Regions from separate parts of the Homo sapiens genome. Here region 2 is linked to region 1. Evidence: fine-mapped expression QTL. A gene starts in region 1. The other region holds a variant in brackets. All regions are shown on one strand. Distances are from middle to middle.

The links.
Region 2: its variant is fine-mapped to the expression of CCM2L in whole blood (TOPMed, PIP above 0.99).

The regions. Positions count from the first base shown.
Region 1 is chr20:32,007,096-32,015,425 of GRCh38, reverse strand. CCM2L (CCM2 like scaffold protein) reads right to left here and starts at 4,988. Exons shown (of 10, transcript NM_001365692.1): 1 at 4,942-4,988; 2 at 355-522. The coding sequence starts at 4,971. It also overlaps the pseudogene RNA5SP481. RefSeq lists enhancers at 3,137-3,728, 4,639-5,166.
Region 2 is chr20:32,029,424-32,037,753 of GRCh38, reverse strand. It overlaps CCM2L (CCM2 like scaffold protein), which reads right to left. Exons shown (of 10, transcript NM_001365692.1): 9 at 7,916-8,054; 10 at 5,574-6,753. The coding sequence ends at 6,440. Among named protein-coding and RNA genes, the nearest start is that of HCK, 19 kb to the left of the region's middle. RefSeq lists enhancers at 2,422-2,601, 6,016-6,543 and a silencer at 6,305-6,354. The variant C/G (reference allele first, on the strand shown) is at 3,967.

The sequences.
Region 1 (8,330 bases):
ATATTCCCATTGCAATGCCTATTCCTGAGTAAACATCATTTTCTTTTAGTGAGTCTCCCTTTCTGTTATGTCAGTTGACAAAAGATAGGACTTTTCCACGCACAGAACACTCTCCCATCCACTCTCCACTGGGGGTAGGTTTTGAGCCTCATGTTGAGATGGGAACACTGAGGAGGCTCAGCAGATGGAGGTCACTTGCTGAAGGTGGGGGCAAGGCTGACATGAACCCAGGCCTCTTTCCAATGAGCCACAACTTCCCCTGTGTGAGATACGGCTGATCAGAACTTGGTGTCAAGGAGAAGTGAAGGTCTCCTCACCCCAAGGTTTTCCCACCCCTTCTCATCCTGCACGCACCTTGACCTCTTTCTCCAGGTAGTCACACAGCAGAATCTGGGGGTCGATGAGGTAGTCGGGGGGATAAAGGGGCATCGAGTGCAGGGGCCGGCGGCTCACGCTGCTCCTACAGGCTGCCCGGCGCCCGGCCTTGGGGAACACCAGCCTTCGGATGGGGGATACAAAGCCCTGGGGAGGAGAGGAGGAATGAGAGTGATAACAGTGGCTGCTTTTATTGAACTCTTACTATGCTCACTTTTACTTACATTACCTAATTTAATTCTCACCAAAACTCTGCAGAAGGGGTACCTCTGTAAGTCCCATTTTACAGATGGAGAAAGTAAACCCTAGAGAGGAACTAACTGATAAAGTCACCAGCTAGTAGTGGTGGAACCAGTAGTTCACCTTGGGCATTCTGGATCCAACGACCTTCTTTCTAAACACCCAGGTGACAGTGTAGCTCCTGCCAAACAGGTTTGAGGAATGAGTCTAGGCTGGGGCAAATACAGAAAAATGTTAGGATTCAAGGCCAGGCGTGGTGGCTCATACCTGTAATCCCAGCACTTTGGGAGGCCAAGGCGGGTGGATCACTTGAGGTCAGGAGTTGGAGACTAGCCTGGCCAACATGGTGAAACCCTGACTCTACTAAAATTACAAAAATTTGTCAGGCGTTGTGCCAGGAGCCTGTAATCCCAGCTACTCGGGAGGCTGAGTCAGGAGAATCACTTGAACCCAGGAGGCAGAGGCAGAGGTTGCAGTGAGCCAAGATGGAGCCATTGCACTCCAGCCTGGGCAACAGAACAAGACTCTGTCTCAAAAAAAAAAAAAAAATATATATATATATATGTACACACATATATATAAATCATATACATAAATATATATAATATAGATTAGGATTCAATGTGGTGGAGTGGTGGTGGGTGCATAGCTATTTCTTAGGCTATTCTCTGTGCTTTCCTAAAAGTTATAAATTATTAATAAGTACATTTAAGTAGAATCCAGAGGCACCTGCATAAAAATGGCCTGGATCAAGGTTAAAGGTGTAAATTCTGGGGCTCAGCCCAGACCAGCCATCTGAATCTCAAAAGAAAGTTTGAGTTCCATCTAGAACAGCATTTCTCAACATGAGATTCCTGGACCAGCAGCACCACCTAGGAACTGAGAGAAATGCAGATTATCAGGCCCCATCCCAGACCCACTAAATTAGAAACTCTGGGAGTAGGGCCCAGCAATTAGGGCTTAACAAGCCCACCAGGTGCTTCTGATACATGCTCAAGTGTGAGACTGCATTTAGAGCAGTCGCTCCCAGCCCTGGCTATCCTTTAGTACTACCTGGGGAAGGCCAGGCGTGGTGGTTTACGCCTGTAATCCTAGCACTTTGGGAGGCTGAGGCAGGAGGAGAGCTGGAGCCCAGGAGTTTGAGACCAGCCTTGACAACATGGTGAAACTGTCTCTACAAAAAATATGCCAAAAAAAAAAAATTAGCCGGGTGTGGTGGTATGTACCTGTAATCCCAGCTACTTGGGAGGCCAAGGTGGGAGGATCACCTGAGCCTGGGAGGTCGAGGCTGCTGTGAGCTGCGATTGCAACACCGTACTCCAGCCTGGGTGACAGAGTAAGACCTTGTCGAAGGAACAAAACAAACAACCCCCACCCCCCCACTCCACACACACACGAACTACGGGGGGAGCTTTTAAAACTTCAGATGTTCAGGTTACACTCCCAACCAACTGAATAAGAAATTCTGGGACTGAGACCCAGGCATAAAATTTTTTATTTTTTAATTTTTTTGAGATAGGATGTTGCTCTGTTGCCCAGATTGAAGTGCAGTGGCACAATCATAGCTCACTGCAGCCTTGATCTCTTAGGTTCAAGCGATCCCTCTGCCTCAGCCTTCCAAGTAATTGGGACTACAGGTGTGTGCTACCATGCCCTGCTAATTTTTTAAATTTTTAGTAGAGATGAGGTCTCACTGCGTTGCCTGGGCTGGCTTGAACTCCTGAGCTCAAATGATTCTCCTGCCTTGGCCTCCCAAAGTGCTGGGATTACAGGTGTGAGCCATTGGGGTTAATGAGCTCGGTCCATTAAGATTTTTTTAAGCCTTCTTAGGTAATTTCAAAAGGCAGCTCAGCTGAAAACCACTGAGTGAATGTGTGGTGTGATTACTTAACTGTGTAACAAGGCAAATGTGAGTAAGACAACCTCCCTGCCTGCAAGGAGCTCACGTTCTTTCCAGGTAAACAGAACACAAGTCCACAAATACATCTGTTCATTTACTCATTCATTCAGTAAACATTTACACCTGTATGGCTGGACTCTGCTGGGTGCTGAGGATTCAGTGGAGACCTGGATCCTATCCTTGCCTCCAGGGCTTGTGATAAATGACCTAGACTAGTGAGTTTCCAACTTTATCTGCCCTGGAGTTTTGATTCAGTACAGTTGGGTTGGAGCTTGAGACTGTGCATTTCTACCAAGCTCCCATCTGGTGCTGATACTACTGGTCTGTGCACCACGCTTTGAGTAGCCAGGATCTAAACCGGTGGTTCTCAAAGTGTGGCCCCACAGCCATCAGCATAACCTGTGGGTTATTAGAATTGCAAATTCTTTCTGACTCAGCGATCCTCCCACCTCTGCCTCACAGTAGCTAGGACCACAGGCATGCACCACCACCACACCTAGCTAATATATATTTTTTAAAGAGATGGGGTCTTACTATGTTGCCCAGTCTGGTCTTGAACTCCTAGGCTCATGCAATCCTCCTGCCTCAGCCTCCCAAAGTGTTGCGATTACAGGCGTGAGTCACTGTGCCTGGCCAGAAATGCAATTTCTTGAACCCCATCCCAGGCCTATTGGCCCAGAAACTGGGGGTAAGACCCAGTGATCTGTGTTTTAATGAGCCCTCAGGTGATTCTTATGGGTACTCAGCTTATGTTAGAACCCATATCATGGAGCCAGGATGGGGTATGTAGCAACTTTAAGGAATGAGAAGAAACTATCTGGGAGAAAGCATGCCAAGCAGAGGGCACAGCATGTGCAAAATTCTGGATGCCTCAAAGGCTGGATGAGGGTGAGCCTGGAGAAGCTGTGTGCAGTCAGTCTGCCGTGGCTAGATTATGAGACGAACATATCTTGAATGCCGGCTATGGAGCTGGGACTTTGTCTTGCGTATGTGTGTGTATTAGGGGTGGGGAGGGGTAAGTATTTTTGTTGGTGGCCCTGAATGGCTCAGCTCTGCCCACCTGTCCAGCCCCATCTGCCTCATTCTTGTCCCCTGGGCCCCCACTACACAGTCCTCCTTCAGTCCCTCTGGCTTGCTATGTGACTTCCCACTGTGGGGTTTTGCACATGCTGTTCCTCTGCCTCAAACACTCTTCCCTACCCACTTTCCTTCCACCCGTCAGTTCTCGACTCAAACTGATCAGTTTCCTCCAGCACTGAGTATGGGACCTCCTATGATTTTTAAAAAATTTTTATTTATGTATTTATTTATTTATTTTAGACAGAGTCTCACTCTGTCACCCAGGCTGGAGTGCAGTGGCGCGATCTTGGCTCACTGCAACCTCTGCCTCCTAGGTTCAAGCTTCAGCCTCCTTAGTAGCTGGGATTACAGGCATGTGCCACCATGCCCAGTTAATTTTTGTATTTTTAGTAGAGACAGGGTTTCGCCATGTTGGCCTGGCTGGTCTCGAACCCCTGACCTCAGGTGATCCACCCGCCTCGGCCTCCCAAAGTGCTAGAATTACAGGTGTGAGCCACTGCACCCGGCCCTTCTATGCAATTTTACATTAACTTATTTATTGCTTTAAAAAAAGAAATACCTGGTGCATAATAGGCACTCAATAAATGTCTATTAAAAGAACAAACTAAGAGAAAACATGCACGTATGTCTTGGCTCCCTTCTGAGCCCTCTGTGATTCATGTGGGCACCTTTTAGAACAGCCCGGACATATGTTTCTGGTGGGGGTGGGGTAGAGGGGAGGGTGGAAATGGGGGTAAGATGGAAGTTAAAATCAGAGCGCCTCCCTGAACTCCAAAGACAACCAGGTGAGACACCCAGAGAAGCATACTAGAAAACTTCAGAGTCAGAAGGGGTGAGGGGAATGGCTTCTGGCTGACGCCTTACATACGCCCTTGTAGAAAGGTGGGAGGGGCAGGGGGCAGGTGGGAGACTCAAGCCTGTGTAGGCAACATCCTATCGGAATTGCCCTGGCTGAGTCCTTCTGTTTGGGGCAGTGACGAGCAGGAGAATGGATCTGCTGGGTGTCTGTCTGTCCGTCTGTCTGAGAGGCTGCAGGAGGGAGCTGCGGGGAACACCAGGGAAGCAGGTGTGGAGAATCTCCCAAACTGAGTCCGTCTGGCCAGGTTTCCTGAGAAGGTCCCTGTCTGTCCACGTTAGGGATGCCAGAGGCCACTGAGAGTGGAGAAACAGGGAGTTTAGAGCCTGACTGTCTGGCTGTCCAAGAGTGGGAAGGAAGTTACTTCCAAATGAGAAGAAAGGCTCCACTTATGCCCCTCGCTACCGACCCCCCACCCCGCCCCAGTTTGCCCCCTTCCCCAGCTTTGGGGACATTCCTCTCCCTTCGTCCCTCCCAACCTCCCACCTACCTTCTTCCCTTTCTTGACTTCATATTCCATGGTGAAATGTCCCCTCTACTCCTGCCACCCTCCTGGCCATCCCTTCCACCCCCACATCCAGTTCCTTTGTTCTTTTTCCTGCCTGGTCGGAAACTCCACCAGCCCTGGAGTTCCTGCCCCTCCCATCTGATGGGGAGGGCAGGGGGTGTGGAGGACACAGCCTTGGGACCCTGCAGCTGAAGGGTGGAAGCCCAGGCAGAGCTGACCTGAGGAGGGAGGCTCAAGGCCTCTAGCCAGAAGGCGGGTTATTGGGGGAGCTTGGGAATTGGCCAAGGCTGGGAAAGGGCCCCCCACATTTGAAGTCCTGGTTTGGAAAATTCCAAGTTCCAGCCCTACTTCTGCCACTGACCTTGTTGTGTGACCTTGGCAAGGCAAGTCAGTTCCCCCTGTCACAGCCTGTTTCCCCCTCCTCTCTATAAGTTGGGAGTCAACACTGCCTCCCTCCCTAGGCTGCTGTGGTGAGAAATGAAAAGGTGGATGGAAAGTGCCTTATAGAGAGTATTGTAGCCAAGCAAGTTATGATTTTAAAAAATTAATCATTACTATTAAGGGAGGCAGTATGCGTGGGCTTTGAAGATAGGCTGCTTGAATTCGAATCCTGGCTTTGGCACTTACTAGGGTTATGACCTTTGGGAAGTCCCTTAACCACCAGTGCCTCAGTTTTCCCGTCTTTAAAATGAGCATAATACTAGTTTAACCTCATAGTGACCTTGCGGGGATTAAATGCACCTAGAAGAACTTCTGGCACATATTAAGTACTCAGTAAGGCTGGGCGTGGTGGCTCACACCTGTAATCCCAGCACTTTGAGAGGCTGAGGCAGGCAGATCACCTGAGGTGAGGAGTTCGAGACCAGCCTCGCCAACATGGTGAAACCTTGTCTCTACTAAAAATACAAAAATCAGCCGGGTGCGGTGGCACATGCCTGTAATCCCAGCTACTCTGGAGGCTGAGGCAGGAGAAGCGCTTGAACCTGGGTGGTGGAGGTTGCAGTGAGCTGAGATCCAGCCATTACACTCCAGCCTTGGTGACTGGCTGAGACTCCATCTCAAAAAAAAAAAAAAAAAAAAAAAAAACTGAAAAAAAATAAGTGCTCAGTAAACATTAACTGTTTACCTGCTTAGTGGTTGTCAAATTAAAGAACAAACAGAGGCTCTCTAAAATAAAAGATGTTTCACTTAGGAATTAAGCATTGCAGTGGGAATTACCCATATGCCATAGTAAGCGATGTGCATTTTCAGGGAGGTGGGGGGAAGACAAAGATTTTTAAAGGAAAAAAATAAGGATTACATTATTGTTTCTGAAATAATTATTCTTGATTGCAAAGATCAATAGCAAGGGTGATGCCAGTCTAAAGTTGGACAGGCAGTTGCTGGGCAGATGTCCTTGCGGAAGTATTTTTTGTGCAAGGTTTCAATGGCCTTTGTGCAAGGTTGTGATTTTTGTAGTCTTTTTTGTTATCAGTCTTGTTGTTATCTGTTTTGTTATCAGTCTTATTTGTTATGCAAGCATGAAAACCCTCTATGGCCTTCCCCAGCTCTATTTGTCAAGGTTTTCTTAACATTAGTGACTCCATTTTTATTCTGACCATGTTCATAGGGTCTTGAGCTGTTTTGCTCTCTTGGGAGTATATTAGGGAGGCAAGGTCCCCTTTGTGGCTCTGTGCTGAACACTTTACATATTTTAACTTACTCACAGTGTTGAGTACCATGATAGTACCTATTATACAGATTTTTGAAACTGAGGCTGAAGTTCAGAGCCTGGTTCAAGGAGGTCACACAGTGAGTAAGAGGAGGACCTGGGATTTCTGGCTGGTCTGGATCTGAGCCTAGCGTTCCTTACCTCTAGGACCTATGCATTCTGCATGCCCCACCCAGGACAGATGGAAAGGTTCTGTGTGGCCCATCCACACCTTGCCAAGACACCTGGGTTCTGGAGACCTAAGCTCTGGAACTGATTTGCTGTATATGACCTGGTCCAGGTTGCTCATTGTAACCTCTCTTGGCGTCAGCTTTCTTATCTCCCATCCAAGTACTAACCAGGCCCGACCCTGCTTAGCTTCCGAGATCAGACGAGATCGGTCAGCTTTCTTATCTTTCCAATGGGAATAATAATTTCCCAAAGCCCTGCTCTGCTCATCAGAGCTGTGGCCAGAAAGACACAGGCCATGGATGGAAGAGCAGTTAGAAACTGTAAAGTACCAATGCACTGGATTCTACTGAAAGGCTTTTTCTGAAAGCCTGGTGTTCAAGATCAGTGCCCTGAAGGGAGGGTCAGAGCTCCCCAACGCGCTTCTGGGTGTGAGAGCTACAGGAGACTCCTAGCCACTAGCCCTTCCTCTTCCTTCCCCTCCCTTGGAGGGGAAATGGCCCAGGTTGCTTAGTGCTGGCTCTCACAGCCACTCCCTCCTGCTCCCCTGCATCCTGCCGGGTCACCCCCCAGCTCAGGAAGTGAGATCTCCACTCAGCCTGCCAGGCGAACAGGAAGAGGCCAGGGTGTGCTAGCCAATTCCTGACTCTGCTCTGGATGTGAAAGCTCCAACTTAACCCCTTGAGCCAGCCCAGAATTCCCACCCTTGGAGCAGCAGCCGGGCATGAGACATGTGGTCTCTTGCTCTGGCATCTCCATGACTGGCTTTTGCAAGCCTTTTCCTCTCTCTGGGCCTCAATTTCCCTGTCTATAAAATGGAAGCTTATATTATTCCTGGACTAGCTCCAAACATCACTGAACTGCTGGGAATCTCAAATAGGACAATAAGTGTTTTGCATGCCACTAAAATTAGAAAACTATCTCTGTATTCCCTGCAGTGCTCCCTGCAGAGCCATAACAGATGAAGTGCTTAGTAAATGTCAGCGGAAGTGGTTGGAGATGGTGGATATAGGCTCAAATGTATATGACCTTGAACACATTACCTCATCTCTTAGCGCCTCAGAGCCCTCACGTGTCAAAAGCAGGATAATGGCAGTACCTGCCTTGGAAGGCTGCTGCAGGGATTGAATGGGAACAGAAGTGCACAATGATAACATATTATTAAAATTAGCTTGTGAATCAAAGAAGAGATGAGCAAAACAAAGTCCCTGCTCTCAAAGACTTAACAATTGTGGCAGATAGGATTCATCTCTTTTGAACCACCTCCAGTTGATTGGCAGGGGCTGCCTGGAGGGCTGCGTAGAGGATTATAAAAACCGGATCTACTCCCAGCAGGAAGAAGGGATTGATTATCAATGCCTGCCATGGGCAGGAGTGGGGATATTAGCAGCAGGTGGTCAGTGCACATGCTGACCATGATCTGGTTAGAGACAAAGACACACAAGCCAAGAACTCTGGTATCAGGCCAGCGACTTGTTTGGGAAAGGCAGAA
Region 2 (8,330 bases), 22 kb before region 1:
ACTTGTTTTGTGTACCTTCCAGAACTATTCTATACTTAAAAGACATTTCCCGCCTCCTTAAACAAAAATACAGCACTATTCAAAGTGCATTGTTCTGTACTTTGCTTTTTTTTTTTTTTTTCACTTACTCTATCTTGGAAATAATTCTGTATCGGTGCACAGAGCTACCTAGTTCTTATTTATGGCTGCATGGTATTTTATTGCCTGCATGAGCCACAGTTCATTTAACCAGACCCCTATCACTGAACATTTGGTTTATTTCCAAACTCTTGTTATTAGAGACAAAGCTGCAATGACTTTCCTTGCACATTGGTTTCCACTCGTGTGGGTATAAATGCCGGAGAAATTCTTGGCAGTGGAATTGTTGCATCAAAGGGCTCCTGCATCCTGGTAGATATTGCTCAGTAGGGTTTATACCAACTTGCTCTCCCACCAGGAATGTGTGAGAGTGTCTGTTTCCTCACACCTACACCCACATAGTGAGTGATCACACTTTTCCAAACTTTGCCAATCTCTTAATTGAAAAATGGTTGCTCGGTGTTGTGTTAATTTGCATTTATCTTATGAGTGAGGTTGAACATCTTGTCACACGTTTTAGAGTCGTTTGTATTTTCTGTGAACTGTCTGTATAAATAATTTGCCTATTTTTCTATTAGGCTGTTGGTCTTATTTACTTGTAGGTCTTTACACATCAAACGCACTCCCCCTTTGTCTGCATGATAGGCTTTGAAAATATTTTTTTTGAGAACAGTCTGCTTTTAGATATAAATGAGAAGTTGAGAAGTTTCTGCAGATTGCATCATTTTCTGCACGTTGCTGCAGGGCTGCCCAGTGGCTGAGGCATCAGGGATACCGTGTAGGGCTCTTAAAGGTGATGTTAGAAGCCAGGTGGGGGGCCCTGGGGACGGCGGGCAGGGAGTGGGGGGACAAGGAGGTGGATGTTAGCTCTTGCATTGGATAGAAGGGGCTGCCATAGGAGACAGTGAACTCCCCAAGGTAGGAAGTGGGCAGAACAGGCTGGCCTGGCTTTAAGACCCCTCTGCCCCTGCTCTGAAATACCTGAGGATAAGCAACAAGTCAAGTGGGAGGACCCACCAAGAGGGCCATCAATTTCTGGCCATTTAGACCTGATTGGGTCGTTACTGCATCTGGAAGCTCCTAGTAACATTTAATAGTAATATAAACTCCTAGAATGTAAACTCCAAGAGGCCAGGGTTTAAATGCTAAATAAATGGTTGTGGAATGAATGAATGAATGAACGAATGAATTTGGTCAAAGAATGTGAGGGGCTACTATTTCTGAGTGGGGGTGGGGGTAGGCAGAGTTCTCTTTCTCTTCTTTCCTCTTTGAACCTACTCTCTCCTCTTCCTTCCTCTTACCCCAGCTCAGTCAGGTCTTACCATCTCTCATGTGGTCCTGGTTCCAGCCTCCTCCCCACTTCCCTGCTTCCAGACGCTCCTCTGTTTTCCTATTGATCCTCCTCTCCAGCAGCTTGATTCGCTTCAAGAAAATGCAGGTCCCCTGGCTTGTTCCCAGGTGGGGCACCTTTGTTCACGCCTGTAATCTCAGCACTTTGGGAGGCTCAGGCGGGTGGATCCCTTGAGCTCAGGAGTTCAAGACCATCCTGGGCAACATAAAGAGAGCACGTCTCTACAAAAAAAATTTAGAAATAGCCAGGCCTGGTGGCGCACACCTGTAATTCTGCTACTTTGAAGGCTGAGAATGGCTTGAGCCCAGGAGCTGGAGGCTGCAGTGAGCTTTGATTGTTCCACTGCACTCCAGCTGGGTGACAGAGTGAGAACCCGCCTCAAACAACGATAACAAAAACAACAATAACAACAACAAACATTAGATAGCCTCCCATTGCCTATGCTTCCTAGCCTGCCCTTCAAGGGCTTCTAATCTATCCACTTCTCTGGTTTCCTCTCCTGCAACTCCTACCCACCCACCTCGTCCCCCACCTCACACACTCCGTGTTCCTCCAGCTATCACAATGGTCACTAATTGAGCACTTTCTACATATACTTTTACGTGAAATATCTTAAGACTCATGACAATCTATGGGATCTACGAGGGTGAGGCTATTATCAACCCCACTTTACAGATGAGGAAACCAAGACCCAGGGACATTTTAGGGGCTTTCCCAAGGTCACCGAACAAGCAGATGGCAGAGCTCGGATTAAAAACCCTCCGACCCTCTGGCCAGGGAGCCTAAGTGCTGCACGAGTGCTAACCGGTTGCCAGTCCTAGAGCACGCCATGCTCCTTCAAGCTCCCCTGCCTTTGCTTGTGCTGGGTCCCCATCTGGAGGGCTCTCTCTTCTATTGTTCACCCACCAAAAACCTTGTCCTTCAAGCTCTCGCTCATGGCTCACCTCCCCTGTGAAACCTTTTCCAGCTTCCCCAGAAAGAGCTGGTGTCTCACTCTTTGACTTTACAATTGAGAACTTTGTGCTATGATTATCTGGGAACTGTTTTCCCCATCAGTGTGCCCCTCAGTGGGCAGACTGTGCTGTATCTCCCTCTAGTGTCTTGTGCAATGCCTGGCACAGAGCAAGTGCCCTCTAAATGCTTGGCGGCTGAATGACAGTGGCCCCAGGACTCCTGCTCCTGAGCACATAGTTGGGAAGGACTGCTGGGAGCTGCCAGTGGAAGTGGGGAGTGGGTAGGAAGTTTCAGGGCCCCACCTTGGGAGAGGCGTCCATCTACGGCAGCTGGAGACAATTTTACCACTCACGTTTGGGCCAAGACCGTCCCCAGGGGATCCAGCTGGTGGGGAAGTTCCATACTTGCACTACCCCTAGAAGTCCTTGGGAACCAGCTATCCCACCCCTAGGGGGTTTTCCCCTCTTGTGATGTCAGGAACTGAACCAACAAGGGAAGCAATTCCTGGCAGGGTCTCTGGATGCTACAGGAGGAAGTGTGGCCAGAGTCTCCAGACTCAGTGCCTGGGTTGCCCCAGACAGTGCCCTTTGGACCCCAGGAACTAAGGGGTTACATGGCTTTGGTAAGAGGGTAGTTCCGGAGCGGGTGGGGACTTCCTTGGGGTGTGAGGGAAATTACCCCATCCCTGGAGCTGTGGGGTAAGAACTGTCTGTCCCAGTGCCTCTCAGCAGCCCTGTCACTGTGCTGTGGCTAGGATTTTCGGCAGTTTTTGAGCTTTTCTTGGAAAGCCCCAAGGCCTTTAAGAGAGACTCCTATATCTTTGGCCCCTGTCCCTACCCAACCAACTGTTCCCTCTCCGGCTGCCTTGCTCAGGAACTTACTAAGGCTCCCTGTAGCCTCAGGTCGGAATGCCTCAGGCTACGGCCACTACATCCCAAAGTCTCAGAGACAGGACAGTAGAGAGGCTAGGGACATGGGCTCTGGGTTAGCCAGACATGAGTCCAAAGCCCAGCTCACTGTGTGACCTTGGGGTATTCACTTCACCTCTTGAACTCCAGTTCCTTCATCCAGAAAATGAAAATAAATAAAATCGACAACCTCAAAATTAAGGAATTTGCTCAATAGAACAAGTTTGCCCAATGGAAGCCATCACAAATCAGTTGTTCTCAGAGCGGTCCCTGGACCATCAGCATCACCTGGGTACTTGTTAGAAATGCAAATTATTGGCCAGGCACGATGGCTCATGCCTGTAATCCCAGCACTTTGGATGGCCGAGGAGGGCAGATACCTGAGGTCAGGAGTTTGAGACCAGCCTGGCCAACATGGTGAAACCCAATCTCTACTAAAAATACAAAAATTAGACAGGCATGGTGGCGCATGCCTGTAATCCCAGCTACTCAGCAGGCTGAGGCACAGAGGTTGCAGTGAGCTGAGATTGCGTCACTGCACACCAGCCTGGGTGACAGAGCAAGACTCTGTCCCCCCAAAAAAGAAAAAGCAAATTTTCAGGCCCTTCCCCTTCTCTTATGGAGAATCTCTAGGAGTGGGGCTCAGACATCTGTGTTTTAGCAAGCCTTCCAGGA[C/G]ATTCTGATGCCTGCTGAAGTTTGAGTACTGTCACAGATAAACTTGACAGAAGGCAAATATATTAGGTGAATATACCTGGAACATCAACATCCAAAAGGGATTAATATCTAAAATTTATAAACTACTCTTGCAAATCAATGAGAAAAAGACAGGAAGCCCAGTAGGAAATGAACAAAAGATATGAACAAGGAAGTCACAGAAAGGAAAGCTCAAATGGCTGACTAGTATAGAAGGAAGTTATAAATTTCAGGATTAACAGAGAAATGCAAATTAAAACAACTTGCCACCTTACACCCACACTGAATGCAAAGTTACAAAATCAGATGATGAAAAATCTGATGAAGATGTCGGGAAACAGCATCCTTCACTCACCGTTGGTGAAAGCCATTCTGGAAGAAGTTAATGAAATTCAAAACCTGCCCTGTGATCTAGTAATTCCACTCTTGGATTTAGAGCCCAAAGAAATGCTCACATAGGCCCATAAGTTTCATGTACAAAAATGTTCATCAATCACAGTGTTGTTTGTGGTAAGAGGGAGTTGGAAGCAACCTGGGTGTTCATCTCTGGGGAGATGGATAAAGAAAACAGCGGATGCTCAACTCGAAATATTTTGCAGCAGTTGGATGCAACAGTGAGATTTTTCAACAGCACATATGTAGGTATTTAAAACATTATAGGGTGGCTGGGCTTGGTGGTTCATGCCTTTAATCCCAGCACTTTGGGAGGGCGAGGCAGGAGGATCACTTAAGCCCAGGAGTTCTTGCAGTGAGCTGTCACTGCACCATTGCAGTCCAGCCTGGGTGACAGAGCAAAAACCTGTCTCTAAAAATTTTCTTAGTTTTCTTTTTAAATAGAAAAACATTACAGAGTGAGAGAAGGAATAGAGTGAAATTCTTATGTAATATCATTTATACAAACACACACACAAAGCACTGTGTAGTTTAGGTCCAGGGACATATATCAGCACATAGGGTTAGGCGCTCATAGTAAAGAGGGAAAAGGAGTGTGGGGAACATGTGGATCAGGAGAGGGTAAAATAAAACATCAGAAGGGCCCTACATGGACCAGTGATGATGGGATGATCATTTACCACAAACCAAGTATGAATTATGGAACTCTTTGGACCTGGAGTCCTAATAACATTTTTTTGAAAATTGCTAACAGTGCCTATTTTATGGTGTGTACAATGTGTCTGGCCATGGAAGCCTTTGCAAGGTTTTACAAACACATTTTGGATCTCCTATGTGAGTCTCTGGCCTCCTCTCAGGCCTCATCCCTTTTAGCTTTCCAGCCTTTACTCAGGCTGTGCTGAATGCTGTCCTTATCCTGACTTCTCTACCTCTCCAACCTTTCCTTCCCATTTCTTTGACTACCCCAGACTCCCAGATAGCTGCCTGTGGAGTCTTGGCTATTTCTTGTTTGTGACTTGAGCACAGAGCTAGGCTGTAACAAGGCTGCAAGGGAACAAGTACTGTTTCTTCTTCCCAAACAGTGAACTCCCCTGAGGATCTTCTGAATAGCTCACCACCACTTCAGTTGGGGTAGGATGCACCCAGACATCTTTTGCTTATTACAAGGCAAGAAAGGTAAACTGAGTCATAAAATGTTTGATGTGGAAAGGAACAACATTTATTGAGCTCTTATCGGGTGCTAGACCCAGTTCTAAGGTCTTAACCCTCAGTAATCCCTGTGGCCACCCTGTTAGGTGGATGGGGGCTGAGCTCACTGGACAGATGGGGTAACGGGAGGCACACAGAGGTTACGACACTAACCAGATAGAGGCTCCAGATCCTGGAGCTGAAAAAACCCTTGTTTGGGGTCTTAAGACCAGAATGGGACCCAGATCATCCCCCTGAGTCAACCCTGGGTGGAGGAAACCGTCTACTCCACACTGACTGTACAAGTCAGGCATCAGGGGATGGGAGACCCTGACATTTAGAGCCTTAAAAAGACCTTCTACACTGTTTAGTATGGTCAGTTTGAGGTCATATAAGGAGAATCAGGAGATTCCCTCAAGCCCCGTCCTCTCTTCTTGAACCATAGTTTCTCAATCTGTAAAATAGGACCGAGTTCTGGAAATTCTTTTCTCAGTCGGCCAGCAGGTGGAGCCCACTCTTCATGCCTTCCTCAGCCTCCAGAAAGCTGCGGCGTCCCGGGGAGGAGGGTGTGTTCTGGGGCTGATCCCTCTGGACTTCTGGGACAAAGCAGGATCGCTGCTCAGCCCCAGCCCGGCAGAGCGGCCCAGGAGCCCCGGGTGACTGCCCCGGACTTCAGGGCCCGGCTTCGCTTTCCCCCTGCAGGACACTCCAGGTACTGCATGGCCCCGGGCCCCAAGGGCAGGGAGCGAGACCCTGGAGTGAAGACCCCCCGGCCCCGCCAGGTGTGATGGGGGGGCCCTGGGGATAGGGTCCCCGAAGCAAAGCTGAGACTCAGAGGTGGGCTGCTGAGCCACGCCGTCCGCAGGGGCGGTGGCTACAGGTAGTTGTCTTCTGCGGCGTCGCTCCCGCCCCTGGAGCCCCGGGGCTCATCCTCGTCGTCGTCGTCGTCATCGGGGGCCAGCGCCTCGATGTCGTGCGTGATGTCAGCCAGCAGCCGGTGGAAGGCCTGTGCCTCGGGCCGCTGCGCCGCGCCATCGTAGCTGCGCACTGCGGAGGCCGACGTGGAGCTCATGCTGCGCTTGATGCGGCCGAAGCTGTCAGTGAGGATGCCGCCCTCGCGGATGCCCACGCCCTCCAGGAAGCCCTCGAAGTAGCCGATGTCCTGGTCCGGGATGAAGGGCCGCATCCCTGCGAGCCGAGGGGCATGGTGAGTCCCCAGGACACGTTCCCTTTCCCTTCCACAGGGGAAGCGTCCTCTCTGCAGATCTGGGTGCAAATCCCTGCTGTCACTCACTGGCTGTGTGGCCTTGCCCAAGGTCCTTAACTGTCTGAGCCAGCGAATAACGACACAGCGCTCAGCACACAGTGAATGCTCACTACATACTAGATTACTGTACTTTTATTATTATTATTATAGCCTCTGCCTCCCGGGTTCAAGAGATTCTCATGCCTCAGCCTCCCAAGTAGCTGGGATTACAGGCGCACACCACCACGCCCTGCTAATTTTTGTATTTTTAGTAGAGACAGGGTTTCATGTTGGCCAGGCTGGTCTTGAACTCCTGACCTCAGGTGATCCGCCAGCTTCAGCCTCCCAAAGTGCTGGGATTACAGGTGTGAGCCACCTCGCCAGGCCTATTTTTGTTATTATTAGTACCATCATTATATTCCCATTGATTAATTATGTTGAACCTCATTTTCCTCACCTGTAAAACAGATAATTGCACCTGTTCTCTGGGTAGGGATGTGAGGATTAAATAACAAGGTACTCAGCACATACTGAGCACTCTGTAAACAGTTTGTTTTATTTCCATTCCTACTTACTAGCTATGTGACCTCAGTCCTTTACTTTGTAACTCTGAGTCTCAGTTTCCTCACCTGCAAAATGGGGACCATTAATAGTATCTACTTCTCAGAACTGGGGGCATTTAATGAGATGATGCTTGGCACAGGGTAACTGCCAAGCACATGTCAGCTTATTCGTATTATTCCTCCTGTTATTATTAGCCCTCCTTACTAGCTGTGTGACCTTGGACATGTTCCTTAGCCTTTCTGAGCCTCAGCTTCCGTGTGGGGTAAGATGGGAAGAATCAGTCCCTCTCGCAGCTTTGCTGTGAGGATGAAATGGCCACACCACTGCTTAGTTCTTCTTATCAACAGTGTCTCCCAGCTCTGACAAGTCCTTTCCCTACTCTGCACTTTGGGCTCCTCATCTGCCCTGTGAATCTCATGATCTGGGTTTCATCAGAGGCTGAAAGATAAGGAGAAAACATTTGCAGCCTGGTGCCTGACTGGGATGGCATGGACCAAGCAGGGGCCCTAGCTGACCTCTGGGGGTACAGCGGGGGCTCACCAAGGAGGAGGAACTTGCGCCGGTCTCCGTAGAGCTTCAGCAGGCCTGTGCAATAGTCCTGGATGGGCAGCCCCAGCCGGTACTCCCGCAGCAGCATCGCAAACTGCTGGATCTCGAGGGGCCCCAGCTTACTCCGCAACTATGTGGGGGACACCATTCGAGATCAATCCCAGGAAGCAGCGCCACCCAACCCCTGCCTGAAAGGCCCAGAGCCTTCCCTAAGGGCATGTTTGGTCCAGCTCTCCTCTGAAAACCTTCCCATGGGCTATTCAGAGGACATCTAGATCCCTTAGGCTGCATTTAAGAATAGGATGTGGACTCAAGCTGCCTGAGTGCAAATCTTGACCCCTTCACTGGATCAGCTCTGTGATCTTGGGTAGGTGACAACCTCCATGATGCTTGCTTTTCTCATCTG